Regions from separate parts of the Homo sapiens genome. Here region 1 is linked to region 2. The links come from fine-mapping of genetic effects on gene expression. Tissue or cell type: breast. Region 2 holds a variant in brackets; the other region holds the start of a gene. All regions are shown on one strand. Distances are from middle to middle. Region 1 holds the start of LINC02823 (long intergenic non-protein coding RNA 2823). Region 2 overlaps LOC105369896 (a long non-coding RNA gene).

The links. PIP is the estimated chance that this variant, and not a neighbour inherited with it, causes the effect.
Region 1: it holds the start of LINC02823, and the variant in region 2 is fine-mapped to the expression of LINC02823 in breast (GTEx, PIP above 0.99).

What each region holds. Positions count from the first base shown.
Region 1 is chr12:91,321,338-91,331,415 of GRCh38, forward strand. It overlaps LINC02823 (long intergenic non-protein coding RNA 2823), which reads left to right and starts at 5,589. Exons shown (of 4, transcript NR_183611.1): 1 at 5,589-5,883. The region is part of intron 8 of LOC105369896 (a long non-coding RNA gene); the gene reads right to left.
Region 2 is chr12:91,299,454-91,309,531 of GRCh38, forward strand. All of the region lies in intron 8 of LOC105369896 (a long non-coding RNA gene), which reads right to left. It overlaps LOC107984544 (a long non-coding RNA gene), which reads left to right and starts at 9,934. Exons shown (of 3, transcript XR_001749252.2): 1 at 9,934-10,021. The variant T/G (reference allele first, on the strand shown) is at 5,769.

The DNA.
Region 1 (10,078 bases), 22 kb after region 2:
TATATATACACATATATATGCATATATGTATATGGATCTTAAACATAAATGAATTATCTTTCTCTATAGATATATGGTATTGCTTTCTATATAGAAAGAGCATTCATTTGTGTTTAAGTTCTGACAACCCCTAAGATTTCAAAGTATTTTCAATGTATTGATGGAACATCAGGAAGCACAGATCAGTTCAACCCAGGAGCGTTTTACCACTTAGTTTAGAGCTCCGAAGAGAAGTCTGGGTAAAAAACACAAATATAATTCTGTCTTTATTCAAGAAAATTCTAAAAATTGAACTTACAAAAAAGAGAATGTCGATATATATACAAGGCACGACTTATTCGATAGTTCCTTGGAAGATGTTGGAAAAAATTAGAAAGTTGGCATAAACCAATCTCTACCATGGGGTTGGTAATAGAGAGATTAGAAAGTGCATTGGACATATTGGACTTGAAGTTAAAAACATGTATTCCAGTTTGAAGATATGTTTTTTATCTTCTGTATTTTTATTGTTGTTGTTTGTTTTGTTTTCGGGAGACAGAGTCTCACCCTATCCCCCAGGCTGGAGTGCAGTGGCGCAATCACGGCTCACTGCAATCTCCCCCTCCCAGGTTCAAGCAATTCTCATGCCTCAGCCTCCTGAGTAGCTGGGCTTACAGGCGCCCACCACCATGCCTGGGTAATCTTTATATTTTTAGTAGGGTTTCGCCATGTTGGCCAGGCTGGTCTCGAACTCCTGACCTAAGGTGATCCTCCCACCTCCCAAAGTGCTGGGATTACAGGCATGAGCCACTGTACCCAGCTATCTTCTGTATTATTTTGGGCAAGTCACTTCACCCCTCAGAATAAACTTCCATCTCATCATATACACAGTTAAGCTAATAATACTTGCTTTTGCTACTTCAAATGGTCTGAGGAGATCATTCCTATCTCGGTTGAACTCTGGAGATGTGTTTGCTCCTGCCTGGTTTATTATTATATAGCATCTTCTGTGTCTTCCTTTTTAGTTGCCTGGTACAGTGCCTGTTGTACAGTACACATTTAACAGACACTGCAAAATTTGTATAACTGTATAATTGTATAACACACACAAGAGGAAATAAATAGAGTACTCAAAAAGATTTGTTGTGAACTCTAAAAAGTGAAAAGTATTAGAGAAGTCCAAAGTAGAGAAGAAACAGAGTGGGAGAAGGCATAAGAAGACATTAACCTGATAATTTTCCATGGCTGGTTGTAAATTTTCTTATGAACCCAAACAAATTATGAAACAAATATTTTCAGCTATTACACACTGGATTAGCCTATCACACTATGTAACTGACCTTGTGTTATACTCTCTTTATACTCTCTACAATTAATGATCAATCTATAACACTGCTGTCCAAGAGAGCTTTCAGCAATGATGGGAAGTTCTACAAGCATATCTTGGAGATATTGTAATTTTCATTTTAAAGCACATATTACAGGAAAGTGAGATGCACAATTTTTTCAGTTTTCCAGTGCATATACAAGTTATTTGCAAACTATATTACAGTCTATTAAGTGTGAAGTTGCACTATGTCTAAAAAATCTACATATATTAATTTTAAAATACTGTATTGCTTAAAAATGATAATCATCTGAGCCTTCAGCGAATCATAATCTATTTGCCAGTGGAGGATCTTGTGTCAGTGTCGATGGCTGCTAATCAATCAGGGTGGGGTTGCTGAAGGTTGACATGCCTGTGGAAATTTCTTAAAATGAGACAGCAATGAAGTTTGCCCCATTGATTGACTCTTCGTGTCCCAAAAGATTTATCTAGCATGTGATGCAGTTTGGCAGCATTTTACCCACAGTGGAACTATTTCAAAACTGGAGTCAATATTCTCAAACCCTGCTGCTGCTTTATCAATTAAGTTTATGCAATATTCTAAGTCCTCTGTTCAACAACATTCATAGCAACCTCACCAGGAGTAGATTCCATCTCAAGAAACCACTTTCTTTGAACATCTACAAAAAGTAACTTCTCATTTGTTAGTTTTATTATGAGATTGCAGCAATTCAGTCACATCTTCAGGCTCTACTTCTAATCCTAATCTCTAGTTAACTTCCTCCAGTGAAATCTTGCACTTCTCAAAGTCATCTATGACGGATGGATGAATAAACTCCTGTTAATCTTGACATTTTGAATTATGAATGTTATGGATGGTATCTAGAATGATAAGTCCTTTCCAGAAGGTTTTCAATTTATTTTTCCCAGATCCATCAGAGGAATCAGTTAATGGCATTGATGGCCTTACAAAATGTGTTTCTTAAATGACAAGACTTGAAAATCAAAATTACTCCTTGATCCATAAGCTGCAGAATGAATGTTGTGTTAGCAGGAATAAAAACAACATCAATCTCCTTGTACATCTTCAACAGAGCTCTTGAGTAACTAGGTGCATTGTCAATGAACGGTAATATTTTTAAATGAATCTTTTTTACTGAGCAATAGATCTCAAAAGTGGGATTAAATATTCAGTAAACCATGCTGTAAACAGGTGTACTGCCATCCAGGCTGTGTTGTTGCATTTACAGAACACAGGCAGAGCCAATTTAACATAATTCTTAAGGGCCCAAAGATTTTTGGAATGGCAAATTAGCATTGGCTTCAAATTAAAATCACAAGATGCACTAACCCCTAACAAGAGAGTAAGCCTGTCCCTCGTAGATTTGAACCAGGCATTGACTTCTCCTCTCTTGGTATGCAAGTCCTATACAGCATTTCTTCCAATAGAAGACATTCATCTTCATTGAGAATCTGTTGTTTAACGTAGTCACCTTCATGGATTATTTTAGCTTGATCTTCTGGATAACTTGCTTTGGCACCGTGGCTTCACTTTGTACTTTTATGTTATGGAGATGGTTGCTTTCCTTAAGCCTCATGAACCAACCTCTGCTAGCCTCAAACTTTTCTTCTGCAACTTCCTTACCTCTCTCAGCCTTCATAGAATTGAAGAGAGTTTGGGCCTTGCTCTAGATTAGGCTTTTGTCTAAGGGAATGATGTGGCTGGTTTAATCTTCTATCCAGACCACTAAAATCTTTCCCATACTAGCAATAAGGCTGTTTCACTTTCTCGTATTTCTGTGTTCACTGGAGTAGCACCTTTTTTTTTTCTTCTAGCTTCTTTTTCTTTTTTTTATTTTATTATTATTATACTTTAAGTTTTAGGGTACATGTGCACAATGTGCAGGTTAGTTACATATGTATACATGTGTGTGTAGCACTTTTATTGATTGATGGATTGTTTCTTTTTGAGACAGAGTCTCACTCTGTCCCCAAGGCTGGAGTGCAATGGCGCAATCTCGACTCACTGCAACATCCGCCTCTCAGGTTCAAGCAATTCTCCTGCTTCAGTCTCCCAAGTAACTAGGATTGCAGGTGCACGCTGCCACACCCAGCTAATTTTTTTGTATTTTAGTAGAGGTGGGGTTTCAGCATTTTGCCCAGGCTGGTCTTGAACTTCTGAGCTCAGCAATCCACCCACCTCGGCCTCCCAAAGTGCTAGAATTACAGGGGTGAGCCACCACACCTGACCTGGAGTAGCACTTTTAATCTTCTTTAAGAACTTTTCTTTTGCATTCACAATTGGGCTAACTATTCGGCACAAGAGGCCTAGCTTTCAGCCTGTCTTGGCTTTCAACATGCCCTCCTCACTAAGCTTAATCATTTCTAGCTCTTGATTAAAAGTGAGAGACATGTGACTCTTCCTTTCACTTGATCATTTTAGAGGCCATTTTAGAGTTATTAGTTGGCCTAATTTCAATATTGTTGTGTCTCAGAAAATGGGGGGCCCAAGGAGAGGGAGATAAATTAAGGAGAGGAAGAAAGATGAAGGAAGGGTCAGTTGGTGGAGCTATCGTAACACACACAATATTTACTATTAAGTTCACTGTTTTATATGAGTGTGGTTCATGGCACTCCAAAATAATTACAACAGTAACATCAAAGATCACTGATCACAGTTCACCATAACAGAAATAACAAGTCTGAAATATTGTGAGAATCACCAAAATGGGACACAGAGACACGAAGTGAGCACATGTTGTTGGAAAATGGCACCAATAGACTTGCTCCATGCAGAGTTGCCACAAACTTTCAATTTGTGAAACATGCGATATCTGCAAAGCACAATAAAGTGAAGTACAATTATGCCTGTATATGTGCCCTGTTTAAATAGCAGCCACTAGCTACATGCAACTGCTAAGCACTTGAAATACGGCTAGTGCAATGGATGAACTAAATTTTTCATTTCATTTCATTTAAATTAGTTTAAAATTCAATGAAATACTCAAGTGGCCAATGGCTACTGCATTGGACAGCACAGATCTACAACTTAATGGCTAATGAATGACCATATTCATCTGTGGAGCAGAGGAGAGTGTCTAAAACAGCATAGTGACCAAAATAATACAAGCCTAAATAAAAAAGAATCATGATTTAAAAGACTACAATTTTCAAAACTATTAAGTCTTGCTTTCTGCAACTTGTGACTTAACACACCTCTTTGACAGATTCTTGTATTATTTCACCAGAAACAGAACAGAATTCAGTTGTGTTTCACTAAATACATGGCTTCATCTTTTGGGACTTGGTTTCCTCATCTGTAAAGTGAAGTGGTTGGACTTCGTTAGATCATATTTAAATTTTTCTTTCAGCTACAGAGTTTGGAAGCACATTTAAGTGAATTGCTGGGAAAAACTGTGTGTTTGATTTTAGGTCTCATCTGTGAATTCCTGTCTCATCATCAGAATCTCTCCAACATGTTTTCCTTTCCCTCTGTACTTCTGACTCCCTCTTATCTGCCCATAGTTCAAAAGATTTCTCCTGTCTGATAGATTTATCCTTCTGCATTTGTGCTGTCAAAGAGCTTTGTTTAGACAGAGTCCAGACATACTTGTGTGTTGCTTATGAATTCTAATTAAGAAGGACAACTCCACATGAGTCAAGGTTATCTTTAAAAAAATAGAACTTTAGTCTAAGATCAGAAAGGAAGAAAAACATTATAAAATAAACTTGGCAAAAAGAACTCCAAAGTTTAAACCAAACTAAGATGGGAAGCATAGGAAGCATGTTTTTCTTTCACAAAATCAGATTAATTCTTATTTGAAGGGTTCTTTGAGCATAAAGAAACTGCCATTGCAGAAATGCAGATTTCTGATGTGGCCACCTTGAGTTTGTTGAAGAAAAACAATTCTGAAAATTCACTCAGGTCCCTCTGGCTCCCCAGGTTCTTTGCACCCTGATAAAGAAAAAGATTACACATGCGCCACCTTTTGGAAAAAATGGGAATAGCAGCAAAGAGGTCAGATTCAAAGACCATTAGCTCTATTTCACCCTCAAAGGGAAAAACAAAAAGCCAAATATCATTTATTTTTATTATAATATTTAAAAGTTATATCCCCCAGAGGTTTATTAATCATGTGACATAGAACTATTAGTAAAGTCTGAATCAAAACTTGGATTTGGTTTTTCTCATTTTCAAAATGGTAATAAGTTGATTTTGCTTTAAAACAGTAAGTCTGAAATAACCACAAAATAGCAAAACACTGTCTCAAATCCTAATGTCACAGTTTTCATTTATCCTTGGTCATGGATATAGATCTACGGGGAAAATTAATTGTTTCTATTTATTCTATCCTAGTTACAATAATCCTTAACTTTAAGTATTGTACCTCCCTTTTTCTTAGTACTTAGAGTAGAAAACCAGAGAAGCAAATCCATTTATTTTACTAGAAAGAAAATTCTTACTTGTTTTATCTAGAACCATGAAAAAGAAGTGGTATCACAAATCTGCTTAGTTTTTTTGGACTTGAAGCGTAGAGTCGAAGGCTTTTGAGATTCCACAATGCTTGGGAGAAAATGTAAGTAAAATTACTGGTTACTATAGGTAAATACCTTTTACACATGTTAGGCATTAAGGCGTGCCCTCCAAAGTTATAATGACCACTGAGCAAAATATTCTGCAACTAAACAGTAGACAATGCTGACGTATAAAATGCTTCCAGGATGGAGAGGGGAGACAGCTGAATTTCATTTTAAACAGTACTGACATATCCACAAATCTGACTTAGAGATAGTTCTCACTAGACTTGCATATTGAAGTCACAATCATAAAACAATGCTCTTCATTTATTGTCTTTAAATTCTCATCTCTGTCTGAAGACCCTTTCAAACATAATAGAATAACAAAGCATAGAGGCAAATCTGAAAAATGACTGATAGCTTCTAAGTTTCTGAGTTCATTCTCCCAACATTATTTTGTTTATACAACTGACATGTATAAGAATTAAAGAGTTCTTAAAAATATTCAACTTGAGTCGTAATCCAAATCAGATTTTTCATTATTTCCTAAAAAAAGTGTTACAAAAGCTGCTGTGATTTTAAGTATAAAACGAACGCCACCCTTGTAAATAGCAGCCATAATGTTTTAAAAAATAATTCTCATTGAATATAAATGTACTGTGTTGACTTTTATATCACTCCTTTTCCCACTCTGTAAGTTTTAATGAAATTATTTTTCCTTAAAATAAATACATGAAAGATTGATTACTAAAACAGCATTATGTGTTTTATGTTCTGCCAACAGGGAGATGATAGAGTTGGGTTTAAATTCCTCAGCACGCCCTGCTGTGGTTGTCACTCATAGCTCTCCCTTTCCAAAAACCTCAAAATAGCTTATAATGCCACGTACTATATGTGGAGTAATAATTAGGCTTTCCAGGGTACTTTCTGTTGGACAATCCCTTTGGCACACACAAAAGCCATAAAATCCAGCTCTTCACACAAAGTTCTCCAGCTTTTTTTGAATGCTTTAAAGATCATAACTGTGATATCGCTTGACAACTTGGCATGGTGAAAGCTGACTAATGGGCACTTTTGAGTATGGAGTTTTATGCTTTTTCTTTTCTTCTTTTGGGGACATCTACCAGGATTTGAGAATCAAATTGATAGGATAAACCTACAATGTACAGTCCTTGAACCCTGAAAATTAATTAAAGGCAGACATGTTAAAGGTTTTAAGTTAAAACTGATTTTTGCAAAAGGAATTTGGGTCTTCAAATGAAAAGAAAACATAAAGACCTTCCAAAGAAACTTAACATTTTAAATGAGCTTCCAGAAGCCTGGAGCTCATTCCATAATAATATATTACTTTTCTAATTAGAATCCCTAATTATCTGGTGTATTCCTATGGATGCATAGAACTTTGTAATTTGGCCACTCGCCCACTCCATTTGGGGTTGCTCTTGTGAATTTAAATTGCACCCCGGTCACCACCAGATGCACCTACGACATGTGTCTTCAGAGTCTACCACACTATCAGTATAAAGTAGAGGAATTATCAGAAATGACTAGAGAAAAGAAAGGAGATTTAAATATTTATAGAGTAAAATCAGGTTGGCTTAAACCCAGGTTTTTCCAGTCAAGAAAAGGGGATAGATCTTTTTTCCTTTAGAAACATACAAACACACACAATAAAGCATTTTTATTCCCATAAGCAACTCTAAGACAAGGTCCTTCAGGACTGCCAGTTTATAATGGTGCCCTGCAGAAAATAAGAAAAAAGCTACTCATAATTATTTGTTAAACTCACTTTATCTAACCTGTAACTTCCGCTAATTCCTTGTTTATTTTGATTTATGTTTAATTAAATTTTGTTGTTTGTTTTTTTGAGATGAAGTCTCACTCTGTCGCCCAGGCTGGAGTGCAGTGGCGCAATTTCGGCTCACTGCAACCTCCGCCTCCTGGGTTCCAGCAATTCTCCTGCCTCAGCTTCCCGAGGAGCTGGGATTACAGCATGTGCCACCATGCCCAACTAAGTTTTGTTTTTTTTTTGGTAGAGACAGGGTTTCACCATGTTGGCCAGGCTGGTCTCGAACTCCTGACCTCAGGTGATGCACCTGTCTTGGCCTCCCAAAGTGCTGAGATTACAGGCGTGAGCCACTGCACCTGGCCATGATATATGTTTAATTAAAATTAACACAGGGCATGATAAAAAAACAAAATAAGCATAAATTACTTATTTAACCTATGTACCCATAATGTTCCCAGTTGTTTTCAGCTCAGTTTAAAAATTGGTCTAATTTGTAGCTAATTTTTATGTACTGGCCTGCATATGTTTAAATAGTGGAATAAGCAAACATCTAAACGTGACATTTAAAATCTATTTTGAAATTCCTTGTTCTGCTTTTTAGAAAATGACTGGATATATGTACAAGTGTATATATATACACATATATACATATATACATATATATGACTGCATGTGTGCATGATGTATGTGTATATGTGCATAATTTAGGGTTCTCGTATTTTTCACACTGTGGGCAGGAAGGGTAGGATTTAGACAATCTTGTGGCTGTTACCAGGAAATGTAGCCCTTTTTGATCTTAGTAAAACATTTTACAAATAAATGCATAAAATTAAAAATTATATTATCAAAGGGGAAAATATTAAAATACACAGGTTACTTGTCTTCACATAATTTTACAAAATAGAAAAAATATTTTAATTCTTAAAATTATATAATAAAAAAAACCGGTATAAAATAAGAGAGTTTGAGATTTGAATCTTATTTCTAACATCTTGTGTAATATTCAATATCCAAGAACCTGTGATCTTGGGAAGTTGTAGAGCCCCTGAAGCCCCAGTTTTCTAGTCAGAAACCTTATCGTTACTTTTCAATAAACACACATTCCTTCCTTCCAAAGCTTTGCAAAAAGGCACTTCCTCTAGTAGGTCCTTAGCCATAAACTCCACCCAGCTTAATTAATTATATTTTTCCTAACATACAGTAAATAAATTTAAAGTTCTCAAAAGAGCAAGTCACTTCTAAGATTCTATACAACCAAGGTATTTTATGATAGCAGCTTTCATTCATCCATTCACTCATTCATTCATTCATTCATCATTTAGTTATTTATTCAACAAATGTTCATTAAAGCTTGCGTGTGTGTGAATGAGTGTTGGATTTCTCCGCAAAGGCTGGAGCAAAGTAGAGGATGCCAGCAAGCATACTTGTCCTACTATCTCAATATCTTGTCCAGTTTTCTCTATTCATTTCACAGGACTGCATATGCACTAGGTAGTCAGAGGTGAAGAGGATGATACCCCTATAGCTGTGGGGTGTTTCACTGTTTTATAAGGGACTGAACTCATTTGAAATTGGCAGCTGAAGGAAGTCATTATTCTCAACTCAGAAAAGCCCAGAAACAAGTCCAGGCTGGTAATAAACAAAGCTATCTTCAATGTTCATGCCTCAGAAGTAGATTTTCTCAAAAGACACTGTATCTAATGTTGTATTTGTAGTTTTTTATTTTATTTCATAAAGAGAGCCTCAATATTTATAGCTTCAAGCCATATAAACTGAATTTGCCCCTACCTGTGCTACTTCTTTTTATTTTGTTTTGTTCATTGCACTATATTTTGAGGCCATTACTTTTAGGAACAGTCTTCAAAGTGTACAAACCAGTGGTTCTCAACTATCCTGTTCATAATAGTTGTATGGAGGGATTCTATTAAATGTGAACCCCAAGTTTCCACACTAAGGAGCTTCTGTTTCAGTAGTCTAGTTTGTAGCTTTCAGAATGAATATGTGTGTGTGTGTGTGTGTGTGTGTGTGTGTGTTTGTTTGTTTTATTCCTGTCTTTAGATCATACACTGAATATCAAATACAAAACAAATTTTTTAAAATTTAAGAGAGCTTTAGAATCTATCTGCTATTGTTGTTCTTCATTTTAAGATAAGCTGAAGTTTTTTTTTCTGTTATGTTGGGTGGCTCTCTATTCTGAAATGATGGCAGCTGCAGGGGGTTCGGGATAGGGTAGAAGGCTCAGTTTGGTTAAGCACTTTCTTTCAAAGTGGTTCTGTAAGCAGATATTTGGAAGTATTAATCTTACTCCTTATTGACCTTGCCATTGATATGGCTGGTCATTTAGAATAGTGGATATTAAACTTCAGTTCCAATCCTAAGAGACTACAATAAAAAATGTTGAAGTCATATAGATTGGGCCCAAAATAAAATATAAACAGTCCCCACATCTCCGTGTTGTAGACTTT
Region 2 (10,078 bases):
AAGAGTAAATGAACCCCAAAGCTAGCAGAAGACAAGAAATAACTAAGCTCAGAGCAGAACTAAAGGAGACAGAGACATAAAAAACCCTTCAAAAAAATCAACAAACCCAAGAGGTGTTTTTTGAAAACATTAATAAAACAGACCTCTAGCTAGACTAATAAAGAAGAAAAGAGAGAAGAATAAAATAAACATAATAAACATAAAAAAAGGGATATCACCACTGAACACAAAGAAATACAAACAACCATTAGAGTACTATAAACATCTCTATGCAAATAAACTAGAAAATCCAGAAGAAATGAATAAATTTCTGGACACATACAGCCTCCCAAGACTGAACCAGGAAGGAATTGAATCCCTGAATAGACCAATAACAAGTTCTGAAATTGAGACAGTAATAAGTAGACTGACAACCAAAAACAGCCCTGGACCAGATAGATTTACAGCTCTATTCTATCAGAAGTACAACTATTCCAAATAATTAAAAAGAAGGGACTCTTCCCTACTCATTTTATGAGGCCAGCATCATTCTGATACCAAAACCTCGCAGAGAAACAACAACAAAAAACTTCAGGCCAATATTCCTGATTAACATTAATCCAAAAATCCTCAATAAAATACTGACAAACTGAATCCAGCTAATCCAGGACAATCAAATTGGCTTCATCCCTGAGATGCCAGGCTGGTTCACATACACAAATAAATAAACATAATACATCACATAAACAGAACTAAAGAAAAAAAACAAATGATTATCTCAATAGATGCAGAAAAGACCTTCAATAAAATTTAACTTCATTTCATGTTAAAAACTCTCAAAAACTAGGAACTGAAGAAGCATACCTCAAAATAATAAGAGACATTTATGACAAACCCACAGTCAATATCATTCTGAATGAGCAAAAGCTGGAAGCATTCCCCTTGAAATCTGGCACAAGACAAGGATGCCCTCTCTCACCACTCCTGTTCAACATAGTTTTCAAAGTTCCAGCTAGGGCAATCAGGCAAGATAAAGAAATAAAGCATATTCAAGTAGGAAAAGACAAATTCAAATTATCATTTTTTGCAGATGACATGATCCTATATCTAGAAAACTCCATCATCTCAGCTTAAAAGATTCTTAAGCTAATAAGCAACTTCAGCGAAGTGTCAGGATACAAAATCAATGTGCAAAAATCAGAAGCATTGCTATACACAAACAATAGAGAAGCAGAGAGTCAAATCATGAATCAACTCCCATTCACAATTGCTACAAAGAGAATAAATTAGCTATGAATACATCTAACAAGGAAAGTGAAGGACCACTTCAAGGAGAACTACAAACCACTGTCAAGGAAATCAGAGAGAACACAAAGAAATGAAAATAATATTCCATAGTCATGGATAGGAAGAATAGATATCATGAAATGACCATACCACCCGAAGTAATTTATAGATTCAGTGCTATTCCCATTAAATTACAATTGACATTCTTCACAGAATTAGAAAAAAAAACTATTTTACAATTCATATGGAACTACAAAGGAGTTCATATAATCAAGACAATCCTAACCAAAAAGAACAAAGCTGGAAGCATCACACTACCTTACTTCAAAATATACTAGAAGACTACAGTAACCAAACAGCATAGTACTGGTACAAAAACAGACACATAAACCAATGGAACAGAATAGAAAACTCAGAAATAATACTGCTTATCTGCAACCATCTGATCTTCAACAAACCTGAAGAAAACAAGCAATGGGGAAAGGAATCTCTGTTTAATAAATGGTTCTGGGAGGATTGGCTAGCCATATGCGGTAAATTGAAACTGGCCCCCTTCCTTACACTTATACAAAAATTAACTCAAGATAGATTAAAGACTTAAATGTAAAACCCAAAACTATAAAAACCCTAAAAGAAAATCTAGGTAATACCACTCTGGACATAGGCACAGGCAAAAATTTCATGACGAATATGCCAAAAGCAATTGCAACTAAAGCAAAAATTGACAAATGGTATCTAATTAAATTAAAGAGCTTCTGCACAGCAAAAGAAACTATCGTCAGAGTGAACAGACAACCTACAGAGTAGGAGAAAATTTTTGCAATCTACCTATCTGACAAAGATCTAATATTCAGAATCTACGAAGAATTTAAACAAATTACAAGAAAAAAAACTCCATTAAAAAGTGGGCAAAGGGCATAAACAGATACTTCTCAGAAGAAGACATTCATGTGGTCAGCAAACATATGAAAAAAAACCAACATAACTGATCATTAGAGAAACAGAAATCAAAACCACAATGAGATACTCTCACGCCAGTCAGAATGGCAAATAAAAAAACAAGAAACAACAGATGCTGGAGAGGTGGTGGAGAAATAGGAACACTTTTACATTATTGGTGGGAATGTAAATTGGCTCAACCATTGTGGAAGACAGTGTGGCAATCCTCAAAGATCTAGAACCAGAAATACCATTTGACCTAGCAATCCCATTTCTGGATATATACCCAAAGGAATATATTCATTCTATTATAAAGATACATGCACGGATATGTTAAATTCAACACTATTCAAAATAGCAAAGATATGAAATCGACCCAAAAGCCCATCAACGATAGATTGGATAAACAAAATATGGTACATATATGCCATGGAATACTATGTAGCCATAAAAAGAAATGAGATCATGTCCTTTGCAGGGACATAGATGGAGCAAGAAGCCATTATTCTCAGAAAACTAATGCAAGAACAGAAAACTAAACACATGTTCTCACTTATAAGTGGGAACTGAACAATGAGAACATATGGACACGGGGAGGGGAACAACACACACTGGGGCCTGTCACGTGTGGTTGGGGAAGGAGAGCATTAAGAAAAATAGCTAATGCATGCTGGGCTTAATTGCTGGGTGATGGGTTGATAGGTGCAGCAACCCACCATGGCACACATTTATCTATGTAACAAACCTGCACATCCTCCACAAGTACCCCAGAACTTTAAAATAAAATAAAATAAAATAAAATAAAAACTTTTAACACTGCTTTATTGTTCTGGTATGTTGTATCTTTGCTTTCATTAGTTTCGACTAATTTATTGATTTCTGCCTTAATGTCATGGTTTACCCAAAAGTCATTCAGGAGCAGATTGTGTAATTTTCATTTAATTGTATGGTTTTGAGAGAGATATTTGGTATTAACTTCTCTTTTTATTGCACTGTGTTCCAAGAGGATGGTTCATATGATTTCAGGGTTTTCTTTTTTAAATTTGTTAAGAATTGCTTTCTTGCTGAGTGTGCAGTCAATTTTAGAATATGTGCCATGTGCAATTGAGAAGAATGTATATTCTGTTTTTGTTGAGTCAAATGTTCTGTACATGTCTGTTAGCTCCATTTGGTCAACTGTTGTGTTTAGGTTCCATATATCTTTGTTAGTATTCTGCCTCAATGATCTGTCCAATACTGTCAGTTGGGTATTAAAGTCTCCCATAATTATTGTGTGGTTATATAAGTCTCTTTGTAGGTATGTAAGAATGTGTTTTATGAATCTGGGTGCTCAGTGTTGGGTGCATATATATTTAGAATAGTTCAGTCTTCTTTTTGAGTTGAACCATCCCCAAGACAGGTAGTCATCAGAGTCTCCAAGACCAATGTGAAAGAAAAAATATTAAAGACAAGTAAGCAGAAGGAGAAGTTCACCTACAAAGGGAACTCCAGCAGGCTAACAGTGGACCTTTCAATAGAAACTCTAAAAGTCAGAAGAGATTGGGGGCCTATGTTCAGCATCCTTAAAGAAAAAAATTCCAACTGAAAATTTTATATCTGGCTAAACTAAGCTTCATAAGCTAAGGAGAAATAAAATCTTTTTCAGACAAGGAAACACTAAGGGAATTCAATACCACTAGACCTGCCTTACAAGAGGTCATTTCCATACTAAACACAGAAATGAAAGACTGGTACCTGCCACCACAAAAACACACTTAAATACATAGACTATTGAAACTAGAAAGAAAATATACAATCAAGTCTACATAATAACCAGCTAACAACACAATAAAAGGATCAAATTCACACATACTCATGTTAACCTTTAATGTAAATAGGTTAAACATCCCACTTAAAAGGCACAGAGTGGCAAGTTGGATAAAGAAGCAAGGCCCCACTGTATGCTGTCTTCAAGAGAACCATCTTACATGCAAGGACATCCATAGGCTTAAAGTAAAGGGATAGAGAAAGATCTATCAGACAAATGGAAAGCAAAAAAGAGCAGGGGTTTCTGTTCTTATTTGAGACAAAACCAACTGTAAACCAACAATGATCAAAATTACAAAGAAAGGCATAAAATAATATTATTTTAAATTACAGGCTTTTGAAGTTGCAATGGTCCCAAAGTATCCCAAGGTTCAAGCACAGATTCCTTCTATGACTCTCCTGATGCAACAAGGATTGGTCAAGCTAGTGAAATTCCACCTAAAATGCTCAATCCAACCTGTTGCCCAAATGAATCTGCCTCCTACCATTCCTCTGCAGTCAATGATTTGAAGAGTCCTAGAGAAAAACGCTCAATCTGAACCCTACTTTCTTCCTTTTCTCAATGATCACTAGCTTGCTTTGGCTATTTTTATGTTTCTTCTGAATAATACAGTAGACTTCTCTCCAGACTTTTTATCTGTAGTTTTCCTCATAACACTAACCCTTCCAACACATTCTGCCAAAGTTATTTTTTCAAATACAAGAATCCAAGCTTCTCACTTTTCTCTTTAAATAATTTTGATGTTTCCTTAACAACTACAAGAAAAAGGCTAAAGATCTTAGTGTTATAAAATAATAATGTTAGGAAAGTCTCTCCAAATGCATTTCTCTCTATCATTCTGATCTTCTAACCAACATTCTGCCAGCATTGCTCTCCCCCAAAAAGAGATGCCTTCCTCATACTCTTTTGCATTTGAATATGCTGTTTCTTTTGTGGCAAAGCCTTTCTAATTCTGTTCTGTTTGGTGAATCCTAACTCATCCTTTAAGACGCCACTCAAGTGTCACAAGCTCTGAAAAGTCCTTTAGGCAATAGCTGTTCTTCATTTTTGTCTCCACAGTACTGTTCAGAATTCTATTTAGCATGTATCAGATTGCATTTTACCCATCTCACTACATACCTGACTTCCCCCTCAAGTTATGAATTCCTCCAGGATAGGGATGATAATCATACACCCACAATGTCAGGTTCATTTTCTGGCATGGAGGAGTTCAGTGTGCCCTTATTCTAGGACTGCAAGAACAACTGAATAAATGGAGTTCTTCCACAGAAATAAGGAGTCTTCACATTCCTGAAAACCTCTTGTTAAAACTTGATTAAGTAAGATCAGAAAATAAATCATGGAGATGCCTTTTTACTTTGTTTAAAGAAGATATACCATGAAATTCTGTGGAAATTCAGTGAAAAATGACATTCAATTTCCCTCCTTTCAATTGTGGGCTAAATAGTATTGCCAATACTGTCTACTCTTAAAAACTGAAAATCTGTTTTTCAGACTGCAAAATATCTCAAATTCTTGACTCCTTCTACTGTTACTAAATCAAATTGCATTTTGTTTTCCACTTAAATTTTCATTTTACTCCAGGAGTTTTTAGAGAAGCCACTTGTATTAGTGAATTTGTGTTCAAAGTGCAAATTCTGCTGCCCAGTTTGTTATATCATCCCCTCCTATAGCTGTGATTTATCTATTACATTCATGGTGTATCTTCTAGATAATTAACATTTATAGGTAGTAGAGTAGAGTATATATCTATATA[T/G]AGAGAGAGAAGGAGAGATATATTTGAATCTTATCTCATATGTATAAATTCCAGGTGAACGACCTGATGCTTAGAAAGTCTAAGCCACTTATTAGGGTGGACAACCCTCCTGGTTTGCCTGAAATAAAAAGAGTTTCATAGATGTAGGACTTTCACTTTTAAAACCAAAAAAATCCCAAGGAAATCCAGCAGAGTAGGTCACTCTATTACTTATTTAAGTTCACACAATAAGTAGCAGATACAAAGGCCAAATTGAGTTCTACATATGCCCCAAATTCTATATTTATTCCACATGCTGCCACCTTGATTTTTATTTTGCCCGTAACATTAATTTCCACATTGTTCATCATAAGATACAAAGTTTTTAAGAGCAATACACAAATGGAAGAGTCTAGTGAAATATTTTAACAATATTTTAAATTATGAATTAGTAGCACAGTTTGCTTTCAGCTGTAGATGTCATCTTCCATTTACATGCCACAATTACTAGCTAATATTTTGCAAATCACTATGTTATAAAACTTAGAAAGTCAAAAAATAACAGATGCTGACAAGATTGTGGAGAAAAAAAGAACACTTATACACTGTTAGTGGGAGTGTAAATTAGTTCAGCCATTGTGGATCACGGGGTGGCAATTCCTTAAAGATCTAAAGACAGAAATACCATTTAACCCAGCAATCCCATTACTGGGATTTATGTACCCAAAAGAATATCAATAATTCTATTATAAAGACACATGCATGCACATATTCATTGATGCACTATTCAAGAGAACCAAGACATGGAATCAACCTAAATACCCATCACTGATAGACTGGATTAACAAAATGTAGTACATATACACCATGGAACACTATGCAGCCATGAAAAAGAATGAGGCCATGTCCTTTGCAGGGACATGGATGGAGCTGGAGGCCAATTATCCTTAGCAAACTAACACAGGAATAGAAAACCTAATACCACATGTTCTCACTTATATATGGGAGCTAAATAATGAGAATGCATGGACACAGGGAGGGAACAACACACACTGGGGTCTACCAGACCCCAGGGAGGTAGGGGGAGAGAAAGGATCAGGAAAAATAACTAATGGGTACTAGGCTTAATGCCTGGGTGATGGAATAATCTGTATAACAAACCTCCATGACACAACTTTACGTACATAACAAACCTACACATGTACTCTGAACTTAAAATAAAAGTTTTTAAAAAATAAAAAGAAATTTATCTAGTTACTAAGAGACTAGTTGTTAGGACTCTCAAATTAGACTATCACTCCCCTATGAAAATAAGTAGTTCTTAATTCTTGTGAACCTTCATAAAGTTTTTAATGTCCCTCAATGGGCTTCCATTTTTTCCCCAAACCCACCCCTCCAATTTCAATTTTAGAAATATTTAAGACATATGGAGGAAGGGGGGAAAATTATTGTACTTTCACTGATTTGAAGAGAAAGTGAACAAGTTAATGTTTGGGTTGTGGGACAGAGTGTCAAGACAAACTGGATTAAGAGATGATAAAGGTTGAAAGATGATGTCATGTATCACGGAATTATTCTAGTAATATTCTCCAAAAGATATCTGGACTTATGTATTTTCTCTTGTGAATGTTTTTCACCAAGCTCTATGCATTTATAAAGAAATATGGTACTCTTTCTTGCATATGATTTATAAATCTTCAATTTTTTATTACTTTCTCTCAAATTATACTTGATAAAATGCTACTGATGTGACTATATTTCCAATTAGTTTTTGACAATAATGCAGAATTCAAGTGTCCTAATATTTAAAAATTAACATGAATGAAAAAATTGGTAAAGGATTATACATTCATTTAACAAACAACAGCATAGTAATGAAACACATTTTAAACCAAGGGTTAAGGACCTTGCATATGTGTTTTTATTGTACTTGTGATTATCTAGGTGACTCTAAGAAAATCACATCATAATTTTCTCTTTTCAGTTTTTCTGTCAGCAAAATGGGAAATAAAATAATTGCCTTACTTTGTCCATAGGCATGGGAAGAGATTCAGCTACATGATCACAATGCATACTAGGAAGGAGAGTATTTGCTAAATTTGAATGAGGAGAAGAAACATAGAAACCACAATACTTCATGTATAGGTATTTCAAAAGAAACAGCTATACATGAATTCCAAGAGAAATTGAAAGACTTTGAGGCAACACAATTTGGGCACAGATCACAAAACACTTGAACTCACTGAGGTGATTTTCATGTATCCTCCAGTTTGCATATATGTAGTTTGCCAGTGCCTCTTACACTTTACTGTGTAAAAATATTACCTAGAGATCGTATTAAAATGCAGATTATAATTCAGAAAGTCTGCAGTTCAACTTGACTGTGTGCATTTTTAAAAGCACTAGAGCAATGTTAATAACGCAAATAAAGGAATCACACTTTGAATAGCAATGTAGAAGGCTACTTGTTTCCACAGTATTAGAGGGATGATGAAAATAAACAGCCCTATGACATAGTCCAGAGTCACTGTGACATACTAGACATTACAACAAGGGACTGGTTTGAAATTTGGATAGGAGGTGTCCTATTCCATTCGGCTTGCTATTGTATATAGAACACAAGGGCAACTTTTTATAAAGGCCATAAACTAAGCAGTTTATAAATAATAGAAATGTATTTCTCATAGATTTGGGGGCTATGAATTCCAAGACTGAGGTGCCAGCAGATTCAGCATGTGACTAGGGCCCACTTTCTGGTTCACAGATGGTGGCTTCTAGCTGTTTCTTCAAATGATGGAAGGGAGGGGTAAGGGGAGGTCTCTCTGGCACCTCTTTTGTAAGACACTAATCCCATTCATGAGGCCTCTGTACCTATGACCTAATCACCTCCCAAAGGCCTCAATTTCTAATCACATCACCTTGAGGGTTAGGATTGCAACATATGCATTTTAGGGGACCACAATATGTATACCATAGCAGAGGTATATTAATTTGAGGTAGTAACATGACAAGGGAGTTCCCCACAAAAAAAAAAAAATCTGGTAAGAGATAGCCAAGTACAGATTGGGAAAAGCTTCAGATAATTTGTAATTGAAAAAAAGTCCAGGGTATGTAGAACACAGGGGCAACTTTCTAAATGAAAACACCAAGGCAGAGAGTGTAATGCACAAAATTTGTTTGGAGAAGAACAAAGAATAAAGAAGGTGAGCAAACTTCTCAATAATAAATCAAAATGAGTAAAGACAGATGCAGCTGGATCAGTTTCAAGGGCTCAGAATGAAAGGGGAACTTTAAAAACTGAATGGTAACATCTGTACGATGCAAAGAAGACCCAAAAACTATTAAAAGGAAGGGAGACAGGATGAAAAGCTTTCTCAAGGGAGAAGTAAAATTAAGACATTTTCTGGTGGTGGCAAGACAAAAAGTAGAAGGAAAACAGTCATTATGGAGGTTGCAAGTTATCTCTTTGGAAATGGGAACCCTTGCTCAGTAGAGCAGACAGAATAGGAAAGTTCATCAGATTTCAGTGGGAAAGAAAGAAGAAATGGGGGGAGTTATCTAGAGAAGTAATTAAAATAAAGGCTATAGAAAATAAGTGGATGCCTGTTGTGTTTTGAACTAAAGTGACTGGAGAAATCAATGTAGAAGGTGAGGAGGAACAGATCCTGAGTCAAAGGAGAAATGTAGAAAGAGAAGAAAAGTGTCAAAAGAGAAAGAGAAATAGCACTTAAAGGGCGTCTTTATAAATTGTCACAATGTTGATAATTTTTTTTATGATTCACTATGAAGAAGAAAAAAGATGACATCCATTCAAGTACTGACAAATTCTAACTAACTATGAAAGACTAAAGAGAAGGATTGAATTACAAGAATAAATTATTTTTTAAAGTTGGAAGTAGCGACATAAGTAATGAACATAGTAAATTAAAGTGGCAGGGTAAACAGTGAAGACCAATGAACAACCGGTTGGAAAGTATCATATAGAGAACAGAGCTAAGGACAAAGAGGATGCAGATGTAGAAATAAGAACTCCATTCATCTGGGGAAAGATTAAAAGTGTCCACTTCTCTATGGCACACCCAGTTTGGCTTCATCATTTCTTTAAGACCTTTTTTTTTTTTTTCATCATTGCCAACAGAATACTAACATTTTTCTCTTTACTCCTTTTCCTCCAGGTCCTCATAGATAATTTATTGAGCAATCTGATAACTAAATTTGAGTTATGAAACTAATGCTTAAGAGTATTTTCTATTTCATTTCTTCCAGATATGTTGGTAAGACCCGTTCATATTTGTTTCCAAGTCATAAAGACCAAATCATGTTTACAGGGT